Regions from separate parts of the Homo sapiens genome. Here all the other regions are linked to region 2. Evidence: fine-mapped expression QTL. A gene starts in region 2. Each other region holds a variant in brackets. All regions are shown on one strand. Distances are from middle to middle.

The links.
Region 1: its variant is fine-mapped to the expression of RAPGEF1 in Th2 cells (Schmiedel 2018, PIP 0.95).
Region 3: its variant is fine-mapped to the expression of RAPGEF1 in whole blood (INTERVAL, PIP 0.99).

The regions. Positions count from the first base shown.
Region 1 is chr9:131,691,534-131,699,708 of GRCh38, forward strand. All of the region lies in intron 1 of RAPGEF1 (Rap guanine nucleotide exchange factor 1), which reads right to left. Among named protein-coding and RNA genes, the nearest start is that of RAPGEF1, 44 kb to the right of the region's middle. The variant C/CT (reference allele first, on the strand shown) is at 3,264.
Region 2 is chr9:131,735,144-131,743,318 of GRCh38, forward strand. RAPGEF1 (Rap guanine nucleotide exchange factor 1) reads right to left here and starts at 4,933. Exons shown (of 27, transcript NM_001377935.1): 1 at 4,627-4,933. The coding sequence starts at 4,687. RefSeq lists enhancers at 1-82, 379-673 and silencers at 379-673, 4,317-4,646, 4,697-4,746, 4,897-5,156.
Region 3 is chr9:131,593,795-131,601,969 of GRCh38, forward strand. RAPGEF1 (Rap guanine nucleotide exchange factor 1) reads right to left here. Exons shown (of 27, transcript NM_001377935.1): 16 at 4,405-4,516; 17 at 2,504-2,579. Among named protein-coding and RNA genes, the nearest start is that of PRRT1B, 52 kb to the left of the region's middle. The variant G/A (reference allele first, on the strand shown) is at 4,601.

The DNA of each region.
Region 1 (8,175 bases), 44 kb before region 2:
TGTTATCCACAGTTAATTTGCTTTATTCTGATGCTTTTCTCAATGCTTTTTGCAAGCAACTATAATCCTAAAATGTTGTGTTTTCAAGGAGATTCATGGAAAGGATGGAAAGGACTTTGACAAGAAGAGGTCTCTAATAACTTTAAGATCATACCATTGGACTGGCTAAACATTTCCAGAACTCTAATAAAGAAACTGATGGGCTTGTGAAACTACTGACCAAGATCAAGCAGAACAAAAATTAATTACATGAGACAGAATAAAATGATAAATAACAATTGTGGGTTTTATGGTTTTTAATTTGACATATTGCTGGTGTTTTATTTCTCAGATTAAAAAAAACACCTTTTTCCTTATATTAGCTTTCAGTAATTTGGTAAAGTTATACTCTTATGAACAAAAACGAAATATTTATGTTTTCTCCCTACCTAATATCTCCAGAATTCGGAAATTATTTGTGACTCTTCTTATCTTTGTGCTAATATAGTTATTTCCATTAAGTTCAATATGAGTCTGCTCTCATAACAGAATATAGTTGGAAATATCAGTTTGGCTTCCTAGCTTTGAGAGTCCTTTAAAAGTCCAATCTGAGATTTCTTATCCAAAGTTCCAGCAAAGCAAACTTTGTGATCAATCACTAGCATTACTGCAGTTGTGTAAATAATCAGGCCAAGTTTGACGAGACTAAGCTCATTTTGCAAAAAAATTCACCTCGCTTTATCTTTAGTAGAAATGAGGGTGACTGTAGAGAGAAAAACTATGTTTCAGAAGAAAAACTATAGTACACCTGTTATTAGATTGTAGCCCTGTTCGTTGTTTTTGAGTTTTTACTATTTGTAGGCTGGAACGGATCCAGAATTCTTCTACTTTCCTATTTGGAAACATCTGGCTACAACTCTCCAAATACACACAAGAACTGCTCTGTCCCAGAAGCCCTACAAGCTGGAGCTTGACAACTCCATGTATATTATGAGGGACAGGTCTCATACCTGATATGTGGGCCACAGAGAGTTCACCCAAACACCGGACGTTATAATCACAGGCAGTCAAACTGCAAACCAGGACAAGCTGACAACTTCATGCTGTGGACAGCTTTTCCCAAGACATCAGAACAAGATTCTTTATCATAATGAGGCTCTGACTCCTCTTGATTTTTCCTTGCTTATGCCTACCTTTTTCACTTGGCAGGATAATGCTACATTGCCGGAATTGCACAATCAGTAGCTTCTACAGAGACTTGATGAAAAAACGGATCTGTCATGCCAAACCTAGTCATGGGATGGTAGGTAACAGAAATGCCACCTTCTAGCCGAACAGGAAATAATCTGCACAGTTGCTAATGCTTCTTGTTGCACATGGATAAACCGAACAAACAGGCTGCTTGGCTAAAACAGGTAGATTCCCCATCTGGCTCATTATTTGATCTAAATGATTTCAGTTGGTTTGGTTCATGGGGACCCTGGCTAAGGGGCATACTCCAAACTCTTGGTATTATCATCCTCATAGTCATTAGCCACAACAGTAGTCTCCCTGGTGCACTGTATCCTCTCAAAAAAGTCTTAAATGTGCATATGCAGCCATCTGCTGAATGGTAAATGTTCTCTCTCTGGCTGGAATAATGGAAACTCCAAGAAATGCATGATAATGAGGACACCCATGAATGACGTGTTAAGATTTAAACCCCAAAATAATGATGACGGAGTAGTGCTGATGCCCTAAGTTTTGGTCACACTGTCTCCTAGGTGAGAGCATGACAAAAAGGGAGAAATTGTTAAATTAAATTTATAGGAGGTCATTGGTTTGAACTGAGCTCCTGCAATATGCCCAATAGACCAAACCAAAATGGTGTCACTCACGCTCAAGTTCCATACCACTAAGCCAAAATAAGATTTTTATCTGACCTTCAGAGAAATCAGGAGAGAGAGAGAATAGCCAAATCCCCAAACAGGCCAGTTGTAGCTGGCATGATAAGAAAGTCCCCTCTGCTTTAACCTTTATAAGAAAAGTAACTCTGAAACAACCAATCTGCTTTTTATTTTCTGTTTCTGCTTTCCTCAGTCCTTTTCTTTCTATAAAACCAACCTCCTCTGCTTGGCCCATCAGAACACTCAATTCTATTCAAGTGTTTCTCAATTCTGGAATCACAAGTAAAAGCCAATTCAGGTCTTTACATTGTTGTAATGTTGTCTTTTGACAATACCTTTCCAAACCCCAGATCCCATCCATTCCCAAGTCCTCTTGGAGTTTCCATTATATCCAGGGAATCTGTCCCACTGCCACCACCCTTATCTGCCTGCAAATACAAGGCAGCTTAAGAATTCCATTCTTGCCATTCCAAGGCTTTCTCCCACTGCAGCCAGGGCAATCTCATCAATTTTTCAAAGCACAAATCTCGTATCCTCTCAATCAGTTTCTCTCTCTCTCTCTCTCTCCAAACACTTAATGGCTATTTAGCTTGAGACTGAGTTTAAGTGTTCTTAAACTCAAGGCTGTGACAGGCCCTACAAAATCCATCTCACCCCCTCTCCCACCTCTGCCTCAGGTCTCTGCCCACTGTTTTCTCACCTAGACAGTATCCTCTCCCTCCCCAAGGGCCCACCTCACATTTCACCTACTTTACTCTGACTTACCCTTCAGATCCTAGCTCTGATCTTTCATAGTATTTACTAGTCTGTAATTACAGGGCAAGGGCTGGGGGCAGAGGAATTCTGCCTTTTTCAGTCAGGGTTCCAGCAGAGAATGAGGCCTAATACCCTAGGGCATGCATTAGATGTACTGAATGAACTTCTCTCCCAAGCATCCAGAAAGCATCAGCTGTGTCACACTCCTGGAAGAGCTGAAGAGCTGAACAAATAGTCACAGAGTTCTGTGTTGTATGGTTCAGATGGGGAACCCAGGTTTGAAAAGCTTTGTGCCAAATACTACTTGACACAGAGTAGGTGCTCAAAGGTTTGTTAAAATGAAACAGAAATGTAATCTTGCAATGAACCCAAGGCTGGCACGCTCTCGCTCACTCTGCTGCAGTCACACTAGATTCGTGCTGTTCCTTCAATACCTACCAGGTCCCCCTGCCTGGCATGCCTGTGCCCCAGGTTTATCTGCTTGGCCAACTGCTTCACCTTCTCAAGACTGGACGCAGATATCACCTTTCAATGAGGCCACCCCGGACACTCTCTTTAGCTCTGCAACCTGACCCCATGATCCCTGGAATTCCTGATGCCCCCTTATCCTCCTTCCTACAGCACTCATCACCTTCACACTTT[C/CT]TTTTTTTTTTTTTTTTATACTTTAAGTTTTAGGGTACATGTGCACAACGTGCAGGTTAGTTACATTTGTATACATGTGCCATGTTGGTGTGCTGCACCCATTAACTCGTCATTTAACATTAGGTATATCTCCTAATGCTATCCCTTCCCCCTCCCCCCACCCACAACAGGCCCCCGTGTGTGATGTTCCCCTTCCTGTGTCCATGTGTTCTCATTGTTCACGCACTTTCTTTACATGCAACTCACTAACGGATAATGTTGACTGTCTATTGTGTATTTTCACCTACTAGCAATATAGGTTTCATGAGGATATCTGTAACCCAAGTGGCTAAAACAATGCCTGGCATGCAGCACATGTCTAATCAATGTTCATTAGATAAATGCATGAACGTGCTTCTTCTGAGTTACCACTCTCTCATAATTCGGAAGCACACAGGGACTGCCTGGTTCCAATTCTGTAGATTCTTTAGCTCAAATCCCCGCCAATGATTAGAATGCTTCCCTGTGTCCGGTTTCAAATTCCTGAGGCAGAACCAATTGACCCGGCTTGTCTTCCCAAAGCAGGCCACACGATAGAGGTCAATGGTAGCTACCCATGGATGAGCCATTTAGTGTAGAAGGGCCTCTTGGCACAACCGAAAAAGAGCAAAGCCATCTGAAGCTATTCAGTGTGGAAGCAAAAGCTCTCCCCAGATTGCAAGCGCACTGCTGTGTTACAGCAGAGGCCACACTGGGTATCAGTGGAAGCAGGGGCATCAGGAGCGAGTTGGATCAAGCTAGACGTTTAGCTGCCAATCCTAACCTTAGTGGGGGCTGCTGCCAGGACTGAGTGGTGTACCTCAATGTCTGGCTCACCCAGAAGAGGTGCATCACTCCCTCAGGAAACTTAACTGTCCATATGCAGCCATCTGCTGAATGGTAAATGTTCTCTCTCTGGTTGGAATGATGGAAACTCCAAGAAATGCATGATAATAAGAACACCCATGAATGACATGTTCCCATCTCATCCTCTCCATAAACAGATTTGTTGACAAGTGTAACCAGCAAACATTTAATAAAAAAATCAATGTAACTCTGCAGGCAAGCAGGCATTCTTTAGAACTCCTCACCGCACCCCGTTCCCTGCTGCAGATTTTATAATGACCTGAAAGGCAGAGTGGCTGACACAAGCTGGATAGTTCTGGCTCAGGAAGATGTCTCATGAAGCTGCAGTCACCTGAGGCCTGACTGGGGCTGGAAGAGCTGCTTCCCTTCCCTGTGGGCTGCTGGCCAGAGCCACAGACCCTCACCTGTGACCTCGCCTCACCACAGGACAGCTGGTCTCCCCCCAGAGCAGGGGATCCAAGAGAGACAGGCTGGCGGAAGCTACAACATCTTGTATGACTTCTGCTGTATTCTACTGGTCATAGGACCAGCCCTGATCCAGAGAGGGAGGGGATGACACCTGAGTGTGAATACCAGGAGGCGGGGATCCCCGGACCATCCTGGAGAAGACATACCACAGTCTGCTCATGTAGACAAAGACCTATTTTTTAAGGGCCCAGAGCTAACAAAAGGTTTTTACATCTTAAAGGGCTTTCCTTAAAAAGGAAAATAAAGCAGCATATGTGACAGAGACCACAGGTGGCCTGCAAAGCTTAAAATATTTACTATATGGTCTTTATAGAAAAAGTCTGATGACCTCCGATGTACACTGTACTTTACAGATGATTTAAGGGATCTTTCAAGGCTAATTCTTCCTCTGTGCCATGTTCTCTTTATGCTCGGACTTTAGAATCTATCTCCCAAGTGAGCAACTCTATTGAAACAGGTGCTCAGCGAACTGTAGCTCTGAATATTATAGTGGCAAGCACTAAGAAATGAACAGCTCATCATAACCTGAACAGAAAGATAATAATCAACAGTTCCTTGTCCATAAGTAGGTGTCTGATAAATACAAACTCAGTGAATGAATGACTAAATGGATACGAAATACTACAAAGACGCATCTTGAAAGTATGGAGCTATCATGACAATAAAAATATCTTTAACCAACGATTTACAATATAAACACAACAACATGTGAAGGTGCTATAATAACATTAACAGCTGAAATTTATCGAGGGCTAACTCTATGCCAAGTATTGTCAAGCATTCTCGTATTCACGCCTCATATGCTAAGGCAGGTGTAATTAGTTGCCTTCATTTTACAGATGAGCAAATTGAGGCTGACGGAAATTAAGTAATTTCCCCTGGATTACACTGATACATAAGTAGCGGGGCTATTTTCTCTTAGCAAACTACATAAAAAAATAAAGAGCAACTCTGCATCCTGAATGTCATGCCTGAGATGAGCTTGCTGAAAGCGCAGCAGAGACAGCAGCCCTCTGCTGGCCCAGGCTTCTCCTCCATCCCTTCTCGCTCCCTCCCTTCCTCACACTCAGCTGGCTGGGATCCCAACCCAGGGACTCCAAGAAGGGCCCAGCTCCGGGCTCCCTATGTAAGCAAGGTCACAGAGACTTGAAATGGGTGATTGAACCTAATTACTCACTGCTCTGCTCCCTCTATCCAAAGAGAGCTTGAAAACATTTTCACTGAGGTCTTTGCTGAGATTGCAGACTCAGCACAGGACCTGCCTCCTGCTTTCCTAAATGAGCGAAGTGGCTTGCAGCGGCTCTAGCTCTGGGGCCAACAAGGTTTTGACGCTTGAATTAGGAGAGGGCAGAGAGAAGGCTGCAGCTCTTGCAGCAAAATGCAGGGCTGTCAGGTATACACCCAGGACACACTGCAGCCACTGCAACAGAACAGAACTGAGCTCTAGGCCACGGGTTTCCTAGGCGGACATAAAGAGATCTCACTCTCCCTGAATGGCCTTGGAGATGGCTCAAAGTGTCCACTCTTCCCAGATTCTTGCACCTGAGGGTACAGGACTTGCTCAAGACTATACAGCCAGTGTCAGAGACAAAGTTCACTGATGCTAATTCAAATTTTCCCACATTTTGGATTCTGCTCTTGGAAAGCTTGAAGTCCAGTTGGTTGAAAAGACAGTTGATGATGACAAGTTCTGGAGGGAAGAGGACCTGGGCAGAGGGAACCTGGACTAGAGGCTGAGTGTACCTGTGTCAGGGCCAGAAAGAGAGGGGCCAGGATAAAGGCAGACAGAGGAAGTCAGAGGCCTGGAACAAAGTGGGGCGTGAAGGGGAACATGTGTGACTATCTGGACAGGAGAGTCAGCTGACCAAGGACAAGGGCAAAGACTGTCAAAGGGCACTGAGGGACCAGCTGAGAGCAGAGACATGAATCTGTGTCAATAACACACCACTGTGACCTCAAAGGGATTCTCATAAATACAGCTGTCCAATCCCCGCACAGTAAACATGCAAGCCACAACAAGATGATCACCTCCCTCAGTCCACCCTGATTATGAGATAATCATCATCCACAAAAATATTATTCCCATGCCTAACAAGCAAAGGGAGGAGGGGCCCTCTAGTCTGCCCTTGTAAACAGACACTTGCAGGAAGGGAAAATAGGGAAGAAAGGGGCTTTGACGTCAGAGACCAGTTTAGGTCCCAATTCTGCCACTTACTAGCTGCATGATCTTGAGCAAGTTACTGGATGCTCAGTGACCTGGTTTTCTCATCTGTAAAATCACAATCATACTACCTACCCCAAAGAACTCTTGTGATGATTGAAAGCAACATGCTTAGCTCACAGACAGCTGTGACAAATTGTTTGCAGTAATGGCCAAACGATTCCCTGCTCCTCATACCCACAGCTTGGCAAGATGACTTTGCACTCTCCTGTTAGAAGGGCGGGTAGAAGGAGGGGGCAGGTCTCTCTCTCCCTTCCCCTTGAATCTGGGCTGGCCTGTGGCCTGCTTTAGCCAATGAAATAAAGTAGAGGTAACTGTGCGGCTTCTGACCTGGGGCCTCAGGGCTGCCCCCCTTCCCCGACCAGGTGAGCAACCCCACTACGGGAGGGACCCTGGGCTAGCCTGCTGGAGGCCCAGGGATAAGCCCTCCCAGCAGCTGATTGTAGACACTTGAGGAACCCTAGGCAAGACCAGGAGCCCAGCAGCCCAGCCTGAACTGCCAGCTGCAGAAGTGTAAACTAGGTGCCCAGTTGTTATTTAAGCTCCCTAAATAGCGGGGTGATTTGTCAGCAAGGACTGTAAATACTCAATGCACCACAGCTGATAATCAGGACTTCTCTCTCGTCCGGCAATTCTCCTGGTCTTGAGCGATGTTTCCATCTCTACCAGGTCATTCCCATCAGCATTCAACCTTGCCATTATTTCACCCTTTATGAAAAAACTTTCCCTTGACCGCAATACCCTTAACAACTACCACCTTGTGTCTTCACTCCCGCTTTCAGCAAAACTCCAAGAACGCCCATGCTCCCTGTGGCCAATTCTCCTCTGCTCATTCTTTGACACTTTCACACCCAACACTCCACTGACACTTTTTTTTTTTTTTTTTTTTCTGAGGTGCAGTTTTGCTCTTGTTGCCCAGGCTGGAGTGCAATGGCGTGATCTTGGCTCACTGCAACCTCTGCTTCCCAGGTTCAAGTGATTCTCCTGCCTCAGCCTCCTGAATAGCAGGGATTACAGGCATGTGCCACCATGCCTGGCTAATTTTGTATTTTTACTAAAGACAGGGTTTCTCCATGTTGGTCAAGCTGGTCTCAAACTCCCGACCTTAGGTGATCCGCCCGCCTCGGCCTCCCAAAGTGCTGGGATTACAGGCATGAGGCACTGCGCCTGGCCCCACTGACACCTCTTGTCAAGGTCTCCAGTGACCACTATGTTACTGAATGCCAAGGCCAAGTCTTGGTCCTCAAGGGATTTGACCCAGTCAGCATCATGTGTCACCGAAGCCCCCTCTCTGCCTCCTCCTCAGGAACACTTTCTGCAGTTGGCTTCTGAACACCA
Region 2 (8,175 bases):
AGAACAACTCCAGGCCCTCAGGAGGTTGCTCCGTGAGGCAGGCGATGAGTGAAGCCACTGAAGGAGGGAAGAAAGGAATGAGTGACTGAAACTGACACATGCAGTCCAAGGACCTTCTTCCCTTCAGCTGAGGAGGCCTTGGTCTGCTCCCACCCCAGGAGACTGGTCCCCTACCCCACTGCCTGTGCCCAGCTAAGTGGACCCATCCTCCGCCTCTCACCTTAAGTCCCATTTTGTCACAGGAGCACAGGAGTTTCCTGACCATCCCTCCCCACTGCAAGTCTGATCTCTTGCCACCTTCCTGCTCACCCTGTGACACACAGAGGATGCCTGTATTCAGGGCAGGCAGCACGACATCTGCTGAGTTCACCACTGAGTCCCCAGAGCCTTGTACGGAGCCTGATGGAGCCGGTGCTCAATCCCTGATGAATGAGGGATGGAGTAATGAGTCAATGAAGGGATGGGGCAAAGGTTTCAAAGTCCAGACAAAAACAAACAAACATGAATCATTTCTCCGAGGAGGGGATGCAAACGCAAATGTCAAAAGTCCAAGTGGGCCGTCGGAGGTGTGGCTGGCTGTGGGAGTGGTGAGGGGCTCTGTGGGAGTGTCCGCCACCTGACTCCTGCCCATAGCTGCCTTGTAGGCAGGAACAAGCGCTCAGAGTTACCAGAGATTCTCATTTTTCAAGGAAATCAGGAACCAGGCTTTTGAGATTTTTGAGTGACTTCCTGATTTTTCAATATTGACCATCAATTCTTTTGTTTTTTTCCTCAAGAACACGTGCGGATCCAACCCAACATATCTGTGGACTGAATCCAGCCCGCAGCTGCCAGTCTGTGCTTAAGCTCCAAAAACATGACGGTATCAACTCTCCTCGCTCAATGTCTTTATTGGAAGATATATGAGCAAAAAGAACCACAGTAACTGCTTGCACAACCAGAACCATGTTCATTTGTTCTCCAAAGCAGCCTCTAAACAGCTGCATACATCTCCCATCAGTCTTCCAGAACAAATCCCTCTGAGCTCCTAGGGAAGAGCCTCTTCTCCTCTGCAGGCCTGCCCACAAGCTCACCCTGGGAGCTCCCTAATCTGTCCAGCTCTCTTCTACTCCCTACCTCCTCGTCATCTCTAGAAGCACTGTAGAGTTTAGAAAGCCTCCCCTGCATCCCAGCTTGTTCCTGGCCCTCCAAATTCAACCTTTCTCCACCAGGCCTCACTTGACAGGCCCCCACCAGCCCAGCAAGTTGTCCCTGTGCCACCCTCTGGCCCAGACTGTCTTGATTCCCCATGGCACTTGGGACCCCCAAATGTGAGGCCTATGACCTTGTGTATTCTCTGAGGATATACATAGGTATGGATGAACCCCTCAAGGCCCTGCCCCAGCCAGGCACTGCTGCATGAGAAAGAAAATGTCCCAAAGAACAGCAATGACTCAAAAGATCTCCCCCAGGGGTTAAGGAGAGTCCTGCACACCAAGGAGGTATCAGGCAATGCAAGGGGGCGGGATGAGGAACAGGCCAGAGCTGCACACTATGCGGGATGTGAAGGGGTTTCCTGTTTACCCAAAAAACCCTGGATGCCTTAAGCACTGAGAACTAAAAACGCTGGTTCTTCTACTTTCAGGGAGAGGAGATTATGAACATATTTAAGCAACGTTTCTGTTGCTTTGAGATAACAAAACAGCAAAACTCCAATCACAACAATTGTTTGCCTGGTGTCAGGCTCTGCCACCACTTCACCTAAGGGCCTCTCCTCTGAATCAAATACTCCTCTGGAGACTGAATAGTGGGAAGTCCATTAAAAAAACTCCAACAGAAATCTAACAAAATGTCGTCTAAATGCAAAGGGAAGTTCACTGAGAATAGCCAGCAGAGACCACCAGGAAAGGTCATCCTCACTCCAGGCGCGCCCCAGTCTTCCTTGGCAGTTGTAATCTTTCACTATGATTCCTATGAACTGCAGCAAAAGACCTTCTGCAAGGAGGCTGGACTTCCAGCCAGCTCCACATCTGCAATCCCCAATCTGCAGGCGAGGTCCTGACCCTGGTCTTGCCAATCTCAGAACTCTTACTTTTTCTGCTTCTCACAAAATGCATCTTCCTCCCACACTTTCCGCAGCTCCTGGTCAGCCCCTTCCCCTCTCTCCTCTTTCTCCCTGTCTCCACCAGGTATATATCTCAGCCCTCTCTTCAGAGCCTAGCACAAACACTGTCCCCTCCAGTGTCTTCCTCATTCCCGCACTCATGACACCCCTCTCTCACCTGTGTCCATGGCAGCACGGTCGCTCGGTCTGGCAGCCTGGGTAGCTTAGAAACTGTGCTAGGTTAGACAAGCTTCTCTGGGAGCAGGCACTTTCATCTACAACCCCCTAGCAGAAGGCGGTGCCCAGAAAAGGCCCAAGGACAAACTATGCTGAAATGAACTGGCCTCAGGTCTTTCTCCCAAATAGCAGAGAACTCAAATGAAGAGTCATTTCATTCCCAGCGGTTTGGGCAGCTCATGGGATGACAGGCAACTTTTTCCTTTTTTTAAAAAAAGAGGCCCAGCGCGGTGGCTCACGCATGTAATCCCAACACTTTGGGAGGCCGAGGTGGGCGGATCACGAGGTCAGGAGATCGAGACCATATTGGCTAACACGGTGAAACCCTGTCTCTACTAAAAATACAAAAAAATTTGCCAGGCGTGGTGGCAGGCGCCTGCAGTCCCAGCTACTCGGGAGGCTGAGGCAGGAGAATGGCGTGAACCCAGGAGGAGGCGGAGCTTGCAGTGAGCCGAGATCGCACCACTGCACTCCAGCCTGGGCAACAGAGCAAGACTCCGTCTCAAAAAAAAAAAAAAAAATTTTTTTTAAAGTAGCAATGAGGTCTCGCCATTTTGCCCAGGCTTGTTTCAAACTCCTGGGCTCAAGTGATCCTCCTGCCTTGGCCTTCCAAAATGCAGGGATTACAGGCGTGAGCCACTGTACCTGGCTGACAGATGATTTCCAATCCGGTTCATTTTACTTTTCTGTGATTTCCAAGTTTTGACAATGAACATAGAATATTCTTATATTATAAAGATATAAAACATAATATAATCTTATATTAGATATAAAAAGATATAATATAATCTTATATATTATAAAGTTCTTATAAAAGAACTCAGTGAATGTTCTTTTTAAAATAAATTATCCAAGTTTCCCAACAGTACCGTTCTGACAAGACACTATACAAGAAGTTCCTGAGAAATGCTGCACAGATGAACCCAAGTTATTTCTGGAGCAGCAGGTGTACAGGATGGCGACTCATGGTCACTCGGCAAGGCTGTGGGGGCTCAAATTCAGTGAGAAAAATACTCAAGAAATGGCACCTGAACCCAAGCGCCCTGCCCCTGAGAAAAGCACCCTGGCTTCTGGTCAGAGGGCCAGGAATGAATATACTAGGGGCCTGCCGCCCTCTTGCTGTCTGGACAGCCGGAACTCACTGAACCTCTCTGAGCCTGTAAAACTGGGACCATATTCTTTCCCACAGACTAGCTTCAAAAATTTAAGAAGCAATGCATTTTAGGTGCTAAGAGTTAGATATATAGTAAACCCTCAATAAAGCCTACAAAAATGTCCTTCTGTGCTTCAACCACAGCCTGCAAAAGTCATATTGCCTTGTGGGTCCGCTGCAGGGGTGCACCCCACAGAAGTATCCCAGATTCAACCCAGGAAACATAAGCAACTTCCACAATCAAAGCCACAGACCTCCTTTGCAGCTCCCTAAAAATCTGCTTTCCCTCATTCAGCCGCCAAGCTAACCTGCTACCGGGGTTATGACCACAGGGCATGCTCCCAGTACAGGAGCCCAGGAGCACCCGCCCACTTCACCTTAGACCCAAGAATTCGCATTTGCCCTGCAAGGTGCTGCAGGCTAATAAAGCCTGGGGCCCCACAGGCTCGACAGTCATTGAATCTTTGGAGACTCTATTTCCAGGACAGGCAAACCCAGGGACTCGGAAGGTAACTCCCCCAGATTTCTAGGAACACACAAAGAGACGAGGTCTGCATCAAGATTTACCATCTACTCCAACCCACCGGTCCCCCACCTGCCCTCCTTGCAGAGCTGAGCTTGATCGGGGTGGGGAGGGGAAACTTGACTACCTCCTCAAAATACCCCCACTCATCCAGCCTGCTTCCTTTGAAGCAACCGAAGTGGACGCTTCTCGTTAAACTCGAAGCTCGTTAGAAATGACACATTTTACAGCTCAGCTGGGTTCACCCTCCTAGCGCCGAGCCCAGGCCGGGCACCGATCGCTGCAGCCGCAGCAGCACGCGGCCCGGGCTGTTCTTCCCCTGCTTGGGGCTCGAGCCATTTTCGGAAGTTCCCGGGGACCGCGGAGCGGCTAGCGCGCCCGGCCCCGGGTTGCAGGGGCCCCGCCCGGCCCGGCCCCTGGCGCCCCCGCAGCGGCCGCTTCCCCCCGCGCCCGGCAGGCAATGGGCCTGGAGGAGAAGCTGCCAGGCGCCCCGGCGAGGCCTCGGTGGCTTCACCCCGCCCCGGCGCACGGAGGGCCGCACATCCCGGGCGACCCGCGCTCGGCCCGGGGAGCGGCGGAGCCCCAGGGCCGGGCCCGGCCGGAGGGAGCCGCCCCACGCCCGCGCCTCACCTGCTTTCTCGATCTTGCCGGACATTTCCGGGCTGCGCCGGAGGCCGAGGCCGCCGCTCATCGGGCCCGGGCCGGGCCGCCGCGGGGCGACAGGGGCGGCGCGCCCGCCGCTCGCCTCGGCCCTGGCTCGCCACGCCTCAGACCCGCGCCGGCATGGCGGGCTCCGCGCGGCCGCGGCCCTGCGCTCGGCGACCGCGCTCCAGCCCGCCCGGGCCCAGCCGCTCCCGCCGCGCCCGCCGCCGCCGCTCCGCCTCCCGCGCGCCCGCCGCCGCTCCCCCGGCCCGCGAGCCGGCCGCAGCGCAGCGACGCCGCCCGCCCGCCCGCCGGGCCTCGGCCGCGGCCACGGCCACAGCGCCACCTGCCGGGCGCCCGCCGCGCCGCCACAGCGCCCCCTGTGGGCCCGGAGCCGCCCGAGCCTCCCGCGCGACGCGCGAGACGCAGCGCCCCCTGCCGAGCCGGAGTCCCCACGCCGGGGCCTGGGGCCTGGGGTGTGGGGCCGACCCCGCCTGGGACTCCGCATTCCTCTGCTGTGGGACCAGAGTCACCAGCTCCAGACCTGGGACTGACAGCTCCAACCCAGGGTCCTCGGTTGCCCAAGAGCCTGGCCTGCCCCCTCACCAGAGACACAGAGAACCCTCCTGGGTCAGATTTTCCACCCCAGGACGTGGAACTGACGCCCACCCCACCCTAGCATCATCCCGGACCCAGCATCCCCTGTGGGCCAGAGGCTCCACACCAGGGCCTAGAACTCACTCTCACCAGGACTCAACAAGCTCTGCTGGCTGGGAGCCTGTCCTGACCTCCCCCAAACCAGAGATGCAGCACCCCCTTTTTTGTTTTGTTTTTTGTTTTTGAGACCGAGTCTCACTTTGTCGCCAGGCTGGAGAGCAGTGGCGCGATCTCGACTCACTGCAACCTCTGCCTGCCGGGTTCAAGCAATTCTCCTGCCTCAGCCTCCTGAGTAGCTGGGATTACAGGCACATGCCACCATGCCCAGCTAATTTTTGTATTTTTAGTAGAAACGGGGTTTCGCCATGTTGGCCAGGCTGGTCTCGATCTTCTGACCTCATGATCCACCCACCTTGGCCTCCCAAAGTGCTGGGATTACAGGTGTGAACCACTGCACCCTGCCCGCACCCCCTTCTTAATTGGAGACCCCACACCAGGGCCTGGGAGTGGCCTCATAGCACCTCCTGCCAGCCCAGAGGCTCCAGCCGGGGAATGAGTCCACTCTGGCATGAAAGCCCTCTGCTGGCCCAAGGTCTATGCCAAGGCGGAGGATTCATTCTCCACCCCAGCCCTGCATGTGGGACTCAGTCACCCTGCCAGCGAGAGCCACCTGTCCCGGGCTGGGGTTGGCCCTACTCAGGCCTAAATGTCCCCTGAGGCCTAGAGCCTCCATGCTGGCCTGGGCCCAACTCCCTCAGGGACACAGCACACCCTGCCTGCCCTGCTTATTTGACATCCAGAAGGGCACCCTGGGGCTCAGCTGTGGAACTTTTCTAGTGTGGAAATGAGTTCATTAAAAGTCGTGGCTGGGCACGGTGGCTCACGCCTGTAATCCCAGCACTTTGGGAGGCCGAGGCAGGTGGATCACGAGGTCAAGAGATTGAGACCATCCTGGCCAACATGGTGAAACCCCATCTCTACTAAAAATACAAAAATTAGGTGGGCATGGTGGCACACGCCTGTAGTCCCAGCTACTTGGGAGGCTGAGGCAGGAGAATCTCTTGAACCCAGGACATGGAGGTTGCAGTGAACCGAGATCATGCCACTGTACTCCAGCCTGGTGGCTCCAGAGCGAGACTCCGTCTCAAAAAAAAAAAAAAAGTCGTGGTTGGGCACAGTGGCTCACGGCTGCAATCACAGCACTTTGGGAGGCTGAGGTGGGTGGATGACTTGAGCCCAGGGGTTCGAGACCAGCCTGGGCAATGTGTGAAACTCCGTCTCTACTAAAAATACAAAAATTAGCCAGGCACGGCGGCACCTGCCTGTAGTCCCAGTTACTTGAGAGGCTGATGAGGGAGAATCACTTGAGCCCTGGAGGCAGAGGTTTCAGGGAGTCATGATTGCACCACTGCACTCCAGCCTGAGTGACAGAGGAAGACCCTGGCTAAAAAAAAAAAAAAAAAAAAGGAAAAAAAAAGTCATTTAAGAATCAAAGGATCTGCTAAGTCTAAGCACTATTTCGGGTTCTGTGGGCCCTACAAAAGTGGGCACAATTGGTGCTTCCCTCCAAAGAGTTCACAACTTAGCTGGGAAGTCAAAGTTAAATCCTATAATACAAGTAGTAAATAACAACAAATTAGTAACGCAAGTGATGTTCCAATGTGGGGCAATTCTGCTGCCTGCTTCCTGTTGTTAGTCTAAGATGGAATACAAAGAAGTAGCACGCACCACCTGGGCTAGTTTTCCCTCCTGTTTCCCCCAAAATAAGTAAATTAAATAACCTAGTGATGGGGACAGGATTTGGGGGAGGTGCAGGGAGGAGGAAAAACTGCTAATGTTGTGAGAGATTCTTATTCCCATCTCCCTGGACAGTCTAAAGGGTCACCGATTCCACAACTAAGAGCTAGTCAGGCCGGGTGTGGTGGCTCACACCTGTAATCCCAGCACTTTGGGAGGCCGAGGTGGGTAGATCACCTGAGTTCAGGAGTTCGAGACCAGCCTGGCCAACATGGTGAAACCCCATCTCTACTAAAAATACAAAAAATAGCCGGGCGTGGTGGTGCGCGCTGGTAGTCCCAGCTACTCAGGAGGCTGAGGCACGAGAATCACTTGAACCTGGGAGGCAGAGGTTGCAGGGAGCCAAGATCGCGCCACTGCACTCCAGCCTGGGTGACAGAGCGAGACTCCCTCTTTAAAAAAAAAAAAAAGGAGATGGTCATAGATGGCAGCCAAATTTCCCATCATCATTTCATCAGTTGCAGCCCTCTAGAGGTCAAAGGCAAATCCAAAGATTGACAAATTCATTTCCCTCTTCCACCTGATGAATGGATGCTCTGATCCAGGGTGGCCCTGTTCAGCCCTCTTGGCAGATGCCTTACCAGGCAAAACTGGCCCCTGGTCCCAGGCCCAACCCCAAAACACACTCAATGCTGCCCCCAACCCTTCTAGGCTTCTGAGCTGAGAAGAGCCGATATTTTAAATCCAAAATCCTGGTTGAAAAGTAGAAAACTAGACTGCATGGATACTAGGTGCAGTCAGGGGTTTGTGAGAACACAAATATATTTAATAAATTATGACATATCCAATGACAAAAGATTTGCAAACAACAAAGTACTTTGCAAATGGACATTATGGTAAATCAGGGTCACAGAACTTACTTAATAAAGGCTATTCATCAAAGATGTTTATAACTATAGTAGAACACACACAAGGTAATGAAGCAAACGGATTCCCAAAGCCCAGTTCTGGCTGACTTGGAACCTTCTCATGAGCTGCTCCTGCTGTCTAGAATGTTCCCTCCCCTCCTCTCCACTTGGCTGGTCCCAGTCATCTTTTGCTTCTTAGTTTCACTGTCACTTCTATGGAGAATGCTTCCCTGAC
Region 3 (8,175 bases), 140 kb before region 2:
ACTGTCAAGCTTGGATTTTTGTTCAAAGAGTTTGGGGAAGGAAGCAGAGATGGCACCAGCATAGACCCATACCTGCTTCTGGAAGAAGGGGCCCAAGTCAACTGGCCTTTGCGGGTGCATCATTGCCAGTAGCCATGACAACTTCGTGGGACTCGCTGGTGAGCACTGGGCCATGCCTTGAACATATGCCACATCCTTCAATGCCCAGAGCAATCCCACAAGGACAGAGTCCTGTTACCCTACCGAGAGAGGAGGAGCCCAGGCACGAGGCCACACCACCCGCAAGCAATGTGGCGGGGTCGGCGCCCATGTCTGCCCAATTCCAGAGCCCTCCCCCATCTGCTGTGCCCTGGATTATGGCAGATGGGACAGCGCCTGGCTTCTGGGACGGGCAGTGCTGTGCCACCCCTCTAGAGATCACAGGACTCTCGATGCGGTCCTGAGCACTCTGTGCGCCCTGGCTCACCTGGTCTTTGAGACAGCCCTAAAAGGCCCCGAAATTGTCCCTCATTTTCCTCCTAAGGAATCGGAAGCTCCGGGGCTAAGTGACAGGCTTGGCACACAGTTGTCAAGGGATAGACAGGATCTAAGCTGAGGCCTGAGGCCAAGGCTGACCTGACCTTCTCCCATGCAGGTCCTGACACCTGAGAGCAGAGCCGTGCAACCACAAAGCACCCCCACACGGCCTCTCCCTGCCAAGCCCTGCTTGGCAGGCTGGGCTCCACGGGCCTGAGCCACGGGGCTCCCAGCTGCTCGTGATGCTGGTGCAGTCTCTGGCTTGCAGGATGCACCTGCCCAAGGAGCTTGCTTTGTTACCTGCCACAGGGTGCTTCACCCTCCCAGTGGAGCCATGGCTTCTGCCTCAGTAATACTTCCTACGTAAAACTTTGGTTCTGGGGAGCCTCCAACCCTTCTGCTAGTAAAATCAGGCAAAGCTCCCACCGGCACGGAGCGTCCTCTCAGCAGGTCCAGCCAGCAAAAGCCAGAAGCCTCTTGGCTGTCCTGTCTCAGGGACCCCTCCAGCCTTGGCCACAGCTGGCTGTACCCGACAGGACAGTGGAGTTCACCCTTTGGAGCCGAGGTCTGAAGCCAGCTCCCATTTCAGCCCCTCGCTGTGGACAAAAAGGAAATGAAAGTCGCTCCCATGCCTGGCTGAGTATGGAGCCCCCTATGTCAGGCAGGGAGGGGGATTCACTGCAGAGAAGCCAAGCAAGGGCTGCACTCGGCGCTCAGGATGCTGCTGATCACGCCCCCAGCACCGCTGACATGCGGGGCAGGTTTCACACTCCCTCACGTAATCCACACAACAACAGGCACCGTTCACCCCTTCAACAAGTGGAGTCGGCTCAGGCCGAGAAGCCCGGGGACTGCCCAGGGGCCCTCTGAGCCTGTCATGGCACAGCTGGGGCTAGGATGCAGCATCGCCAGGTCTGGGCCCTGCCCTGGTCAGAACAAACAAAGGGTGAGGGAACAGTGAAGGGGAGGGCGGAGCAGTGGCTGCGGTGAGTTTGTGGGAGCCATCTCTTCTTTTTCTCTAATTTTCTGCAATGTAAATATTTTTTAGTACTACTTCCATAATTCAGAAATTCCCCGAGTCACTCTGGGTCACATGTTTTGGGAAACGTGCTGAGGAAACACAGGGACAGAGTCCCTTACAGAAATGAAACGGGTTGGGCTAGGATTTCAAGGTGGGGGTGTTTTCATTCCCTCCACAATTTACTTCACCATTGCTCTGACATCATCTTTTAAATCATTTTTTTAAACGTAAAAAGAGAAGCAGCGTGTGGAGAGACTGGCCGGCCAGGTGGTGCTGGCCCCTTGAGGGCAGGCAGTGAAGGGTGCTGTGGCCATGCCCCATCAGGTCACTAGCACCTCCTTTCCAGAGCATGACTGGGAATGACTTTGCTAGCAGAGTCCACCCAACAAGACGTTTTAGGGATTAGGGGACGGTCCCTGCTTTTCCAGCCCTCTCAATCAGCACACTGAATGCGTGGTAGGGTGGGGCAGCTGTGTGCTGTGAAACTGAGGCCACTGCTACAGAATTGAAGGTTCCTGGACAGAACAAACCTTCAAGAATTTCCTCGTGGAGTATGTGAGTGAAGTCCGGTCTAATGGTCTGCAACAATAGAGTGACTCAGCAGTCAGGAAAGGAATCAAAAGGTACCTGCATGTTATCTTAAGTTTAGTACTACTGGGTGACATGCCATCACTCAAGGCGCTGTCTGTGGTGCGCTTAGTATGCGCTGAGCCCCTCAAGGACCCTGGAGGCCCTGGGGTCACTACCTTGTACCAGCGGAGGACAGATGCCACGCACGCCTGGAGTTGAACATGATCTACTTGTCTTCCAAGGTGGGCTCTCCCTGCTCTGACTCAGGCGCACCAGGACTGCTGATCAGACCTGCTCAGGGCTGTGGCTGCCAGGAGGGGACAGGATAGCGGTGGGAGGCCGAGTGGCACCCGGGGCAGGACCAGCCCCAATCTAGTGAGCTCACTGACACCCTACCTTTCCTGTCAGTCTCAGTAGCATGGACCAGTAAGATGTCCCCAGATCCTCCGCGGACGTCCGGCCCGTCATCACCCTGTAATGAACACAGCCAAGGAAGGTATGAGGCAGAGTATGCCCTTCAGAGAATCAGTTTAGGAAGAAACAGGCAGGAATGAGATGACAAAATGCCCTGCAACCCCAAGTCCCCTCTCCTTCTGTGCTCCTCGGCCCAGGAGCAGTGTGGCTGCGCTGCGAAGCCAGGGGTGCCCTCCAGACTCACCTTGTGCTTGGTGACAGGCACAAACTGGACTGTGTCTGGGAGCTGGATGGCCTGGGAGCTGCCCCGGCACCAAGGCACCAGGGCATGCCACTGTTTTGAGCACACAACTTGGGCCAGGGGACATAGCACCTTCCATCCTTCCTTGCTCACCAAACCACAAGTCAGAGGTGAGGTAGGACCCCCTGGGGGCAAGACAGTCCCCAGCCTTGCCCAGGATGCCTGTGGAGGCAGCAGGACTATTTCTAAGCATGTTCATGTTCCCCAAAACTGCAGCAAGCGGCCCTACATCTAAATCCGTCTCCCCAGGTGGAAGTAGAAGTTACTTGCATTGGCACAAGGTTCTTCTGTGGGGCCCTTCCTTAAAGGAGAGCAAAGCATTACAGACAGAAATATTCAATGACTTCTGACGCTGCACACCTGCCACCAACCCACCTGCCTCTTAAGAAGCAAGTCTTGCTTCCATGTGGGCAAACAGAGGCCACCCAGCGTAGAGCCAAAAAGAGCTGTGACTAGGGCCAGGAACAGAGGTCCAGGACAACCCCCCAGGCCTGTTTCTGCCCCTGGCCCTCAATGCTCCTTGCTCTGTAACGCTGGAGGGACGGAACCAGCCCTCTCAGCTGCGGTACACACTCCGGGACTAGCCCACCTTTTTATTTTTAGGCTTTGGTATTTTACCTCCTGACTCCAGAGGCCTGAGATTGTCTTGGGTTTACCTCTAGGAGTAGGAACTATGCCTTTGACCTGATTTTAAGGAAGAAATTTATGGCAAGGATCTCTCTGCAGAGGAGCCCAGCTGTGTGAGTACCCTCATCAGCCCTGCCTGTGTGTGACAGCCCAAGGCGCAGACACATTCCTGGGCTGCTCCCTGCCATGGCCAGAGCCAGCGCATCCTTGCCTGGGAGTGCGCAAAGGGCAGTATCTGCCCTTTTGTCCATGTGTCATCAAATCGAAGCCCCAAAACAGTTGCCTCCTGGTGCGGGCCAAGGCTGCTTTATGAAGCCGCTCCTTTGTACTTCTAGCACTGCACGGCAGGAGGGAGAGGCAGGGCACTCTCTGTCCTGCTTCCTCTCCACTCTCACAGGTTTGGGCCCTTTTTCACCAACGAGGTTCTGCAGGCAAGGCACAGGACCAGGGAATCCACAGTGTCCAGGCCTGAATTTTCTTTTCTTTTTTTTTAGAGATGGGTCTTGCTGTGTTGCCCAGGCTGGTCTTGAACGCCTGGACTCAAGCCATTCCCCTGCCTCTGTCTCCCAGACTGAAGCTACAGTGGAGCTATTTTTTCAACCACAGAAAAAGTTTCCCATTAGTGAGGGCCGGCCACATGCAGGCTCTGTCTGCAGAGCATTTACAGGGGTTCCATCTCCACACCCTCAGGAGTTCTGGCATCTTTAGCTAGAGAGGCTGCAGAACTTGACCTGTGTAAGATGACTTTCTATAAGCATCAGAAGGAGACAGCACACTTCCCCTGGAGTCTACCCCTCCAGAGCCCACAGCCCAGAGGCTCACCAGGGGCATTGAAAGACTTGGTCTCTAAGCCTCCTAGGGTTGTTCTGCTTATGACAAGATCACATTCTTCTCTGCCCCACCTGCTCTCCTCTGTGGGGCCAGGCTGCAAAGCCCCAGCCCGGGAAGTTCTCACCTCCTGCTTGAGCGTCAGCCTGGACATAATTTCGTTGTGGTCAATGAGGGACAGCTCGTCCACTTCCTCCTCCGACTGAGCCGACTCCAGAGCATCTGGTGACTTTGGGGCCCTGCGGGGAGAAGTGGTTTGTGTTGCAAGTGTCAAACCGGCTCAGCTCCCGATGCCTGGAGGCCAAGGCAGTGCCGGTGTGCAC[G/A]GCTCGAAACCGCTCCCGGAACATGCCTGCCCCGATGGCAGCTACGTCACTATGGACTGGATCCTCAGCTCTGCTACTGACTGGCTGTGTGGCCATAGGACAGTCGCTGCTGCCTCTGGATGTTCCATCTGTACACGGAAGTGATTCCGCTGGGAAAATAAAAAGGTTCCATTAAGCTGTTTGAGTGATGGTCTCAGCCACTCCCTGCCAAGGCCCACCGCACAGTTAGCATTTAGGGAGAGGAGGAGCTAAGGGGCAAGCAGAATGGGAGAGAAAGCTGCATTGCTCTTGAGGCTGCTCCCCAAGTCTTCTCCAAGGACCGACTTGCCACGGGACCCTTTGCTTGGCGCTAAGAAAGAGCTGTGAACCAAGCAGACATAGCCTCTTGTCCCTGAGGGTTCAGTCGAGCAGGAGACAGAATTTATTTATTTGCTTTTTTTTTTTTTTTGAGACGGAGTCTCGCTCTGTCACCCAGGCTGGAGTGCAGTGGCGCAATCTTGGCTCATCACAACCTCCACCTCCTGGGTTCAAGTGATTCTCCTGCCTCAGCCTCCTGAGTAGCTGGGATTACAGGCACATGCCACTACGTCCTGCTAATTTTTGTATTTTTAGTAGAGACAGGGATTCACTATGTTGGTCAGGCTGGTCTCGAACTCCTGTCCTCGTGATCTGCCCAATTCGGCTTCCCAAAGTGCTGGGATTATAGGTGTGAGCCACCGTGCCCAGCCACTTATTTGTTTTTTTTTTTGAGACAGAGTCTCCCTCTGTAGCCCAGGCTGGAGTGCAGTGGTGCGATCTTGGCTCACTGCAGCCCTGACCTCCTGGGCTCAAGCCATCCTCCCACCTTAGTCTCCCAAGTAGCGAGGACTACAGGCACAAGCCACCATGCCTGGATAATTCTGTTCATTGTAGGGATGAGGTCTCACTATGTAGCTCAGGCTGGTCTTGATCTCCTGACTCATGTGATTCTCCTGCTTTGGCCTCTCAAAGTGTTAAGATTATAAGCATGAGCCACCGTGCCCAGTCTTTTTTTTTTTTTTTTTTGAGACAGAATTTTAAAACAAGTGGTCACAGTAGCACAGAGAAAGGGGAAGCCCAGAAGGGTACCATGAGCACAGCCAGGGGGTCTGGCCTCGTCTAAAGGTCGGGAGGCTTCTGGAATGGGATGGGTGAGCCGAGGCTTGCAGTACTGAGCCTAAGTTGCCGGCTGAAGGATGGGAGAGAACATTTCCCACAAAGGGGAAGGTGGGACGGCCGGGGGTGTCCAAGATGAGTCTCCCAGCTTAGGGTGTTCTGGGGAGAGTGGAAGCTGGGCCTACAGATATGCCTGGCTTTCCCCTGGCATTTTCTTCCATGTTCCTCTATTTTATTCTGGCCCGTCTTGTGGTCATAGGTCACATTTTAACCCCAGGTATCTGAGATGTAAAAATATGTGCCTTTAGGCCAAACGTGGTGGCTCACGCCTGTAATTCCAGCACTTTGGGAGGCCGAGGCGGGTGGATCACTTGAAGTCAGGAGTTCGAGACCAGCCTGGCCAACATGGTGAAACCCTGTCTCTACTAAAAATACAAAAACTAGCTGGGCGTGGTGGCGCTTGCCTGTAACCCAGCTACTTGGAGGCTGGGGCAGGAGAATCACTTGAACCCAGGAGGTGGAGGTTGCAGTGAGCCGAGATCGCACCACTGCACTCCAGCCTAGGTGACAGAGTGAGACTCTGTCTCAAGGGAAAAAAAAAAATGTGCCTTCAGTAAAAGAATATGGATGGGTCAGAGTGGGCCCTGCCCAGTCTCGAGAAAATCCCTGCTCCACATCTCGTCAATGTTCACCCTGTGGTTTGGCCTTGATGGAGGGACAACATCCCATAATTATTTCTGAGCAGTCAAAGTGTTCATCCTTCTCTTTCACGAGAACCATCTGGAACTCTGAAGACGATACTTTGGGGTCCAGTGAAGCTAGTGGCATACCCACGAGCTGCATTTGCTTGGCCCACACACTCTGCCCCAGGTATTAACCTAGAAACCACACCATTCCTGGCTTCACACCTGGGGAAAGCTCAGTCTGGGCAGACAAGTCAGAGAGACAAGTCAGAGAGCACAAGAGTGGCCAGGAGGCAGGCTGGGCAGGTGGCCCTCTTCAACAGGTCCCTATGCAATGCCTTCTCATTTCTTTTTCTTTCTTTTGCTATTTTTATTAACTGCCTCTTCAACCATTCATGCTGAGCCCTGATAATGACAAGTGGGCACTCCCTTGCTCTAAGGTCACCAAAGACCCCAGAGGTGGCTAAAGCTTGACCTAAGGAGGGAGGAAAAGCTTGAACACATGGAACATTTCATAGAGAAGGGGAAGTCAATGTGAAGTTGCAGGTGGGAGTGCCCATTTGCAGATCCTACACATCATATTTCACAGGTGCATACTGGGGAAATCTACTACGTATTTCTACACTTGGTCAGGTTTGGTTTATGCTAATATTGAAAAATGTGGCCAGGCATCATGGCTCACGCCTGTAATCCCAGCACTTTGGGAGGCTGGGGCAGGTGGATCATGAGGTCGGGAGATTGAGACCATCCTGGCTAACATGGTGAAACCCCGTCTCTACTAAAAATACAAAATAAATAAATAAATAAAAACTTAGCCGGGCATGGTGGCACATGCCTGTAGTCCCAGCTACTTGGGAAGCTGAGGCGGGAGAATCGCTTGAGCCCGGGAGGCGGAAGTTGCAGTGAGCCGAGATCGCGCCACTGCACTCTAGCCTGGGCGACAGAGTGAGACTCCGTCTCAAAAAAAAAAAAAAAAAAAAAAAAGTTATAAGACATTAAAGAGCTGTAATGACTAAATGCAATGAACAGCTCCTGATCTTGGCTGCAAAAAATTAAGATATACAAGACATTCTTGTTAGCAACATCACATGCACACATATGTCTAGAAATGTCCCTGATAACAAGTTTGTAAGTGGAGGGGGTGTCTTTTACACTCCCTATCAACTTGAAAGAGGCCAAGACCAAGGGAGGTTGGCCTGGGATTTGAAAAAGAAAAGACAAGGCTATCGTGGGTAATTTGTAAGGTAGATAATATAGGTGCAAACAATCAAGAAGTAATGGCAAACTACATGTGAAGGCCTTTGCAGGGTGGGGTTATTAGTGATTTTTCTTGCTTTCTTGCAGTTTTCTATGCTTTTCAACAGTTTCTATCCTGAGCTTGTATTATTTGAGAATCAGAAAAAAAGGAAGAGGGCCAGGTACAGTGGCTCATGCCTGTAAGCCCAGCACTTTGGGAGGCTGATGTGGGAGGATCGCTTGAAGCCAGGAGTTAGTGACCATCCTAGGCAACATAGCGAGACCTCGTCTCTACAAAAAACTAAAACAATCAGCTGGGCGTGGTACTGCATGCCTGTAGTCCCAGCTATCTGGGAGGCTGAGGTGGGAGGATCGCTTGAGCCCGGGAGTTCAAGGTTATAGTGAGCTGCAATTGTGCCACTGCACTCCAGTCTGGGTAACAGATCAATACCCTGTCTCTAAAAAACAAAAAAAGGAAATAAGGAAAGAAGGAAGAGTTTCAACTTGAAATACCCTCAGGCC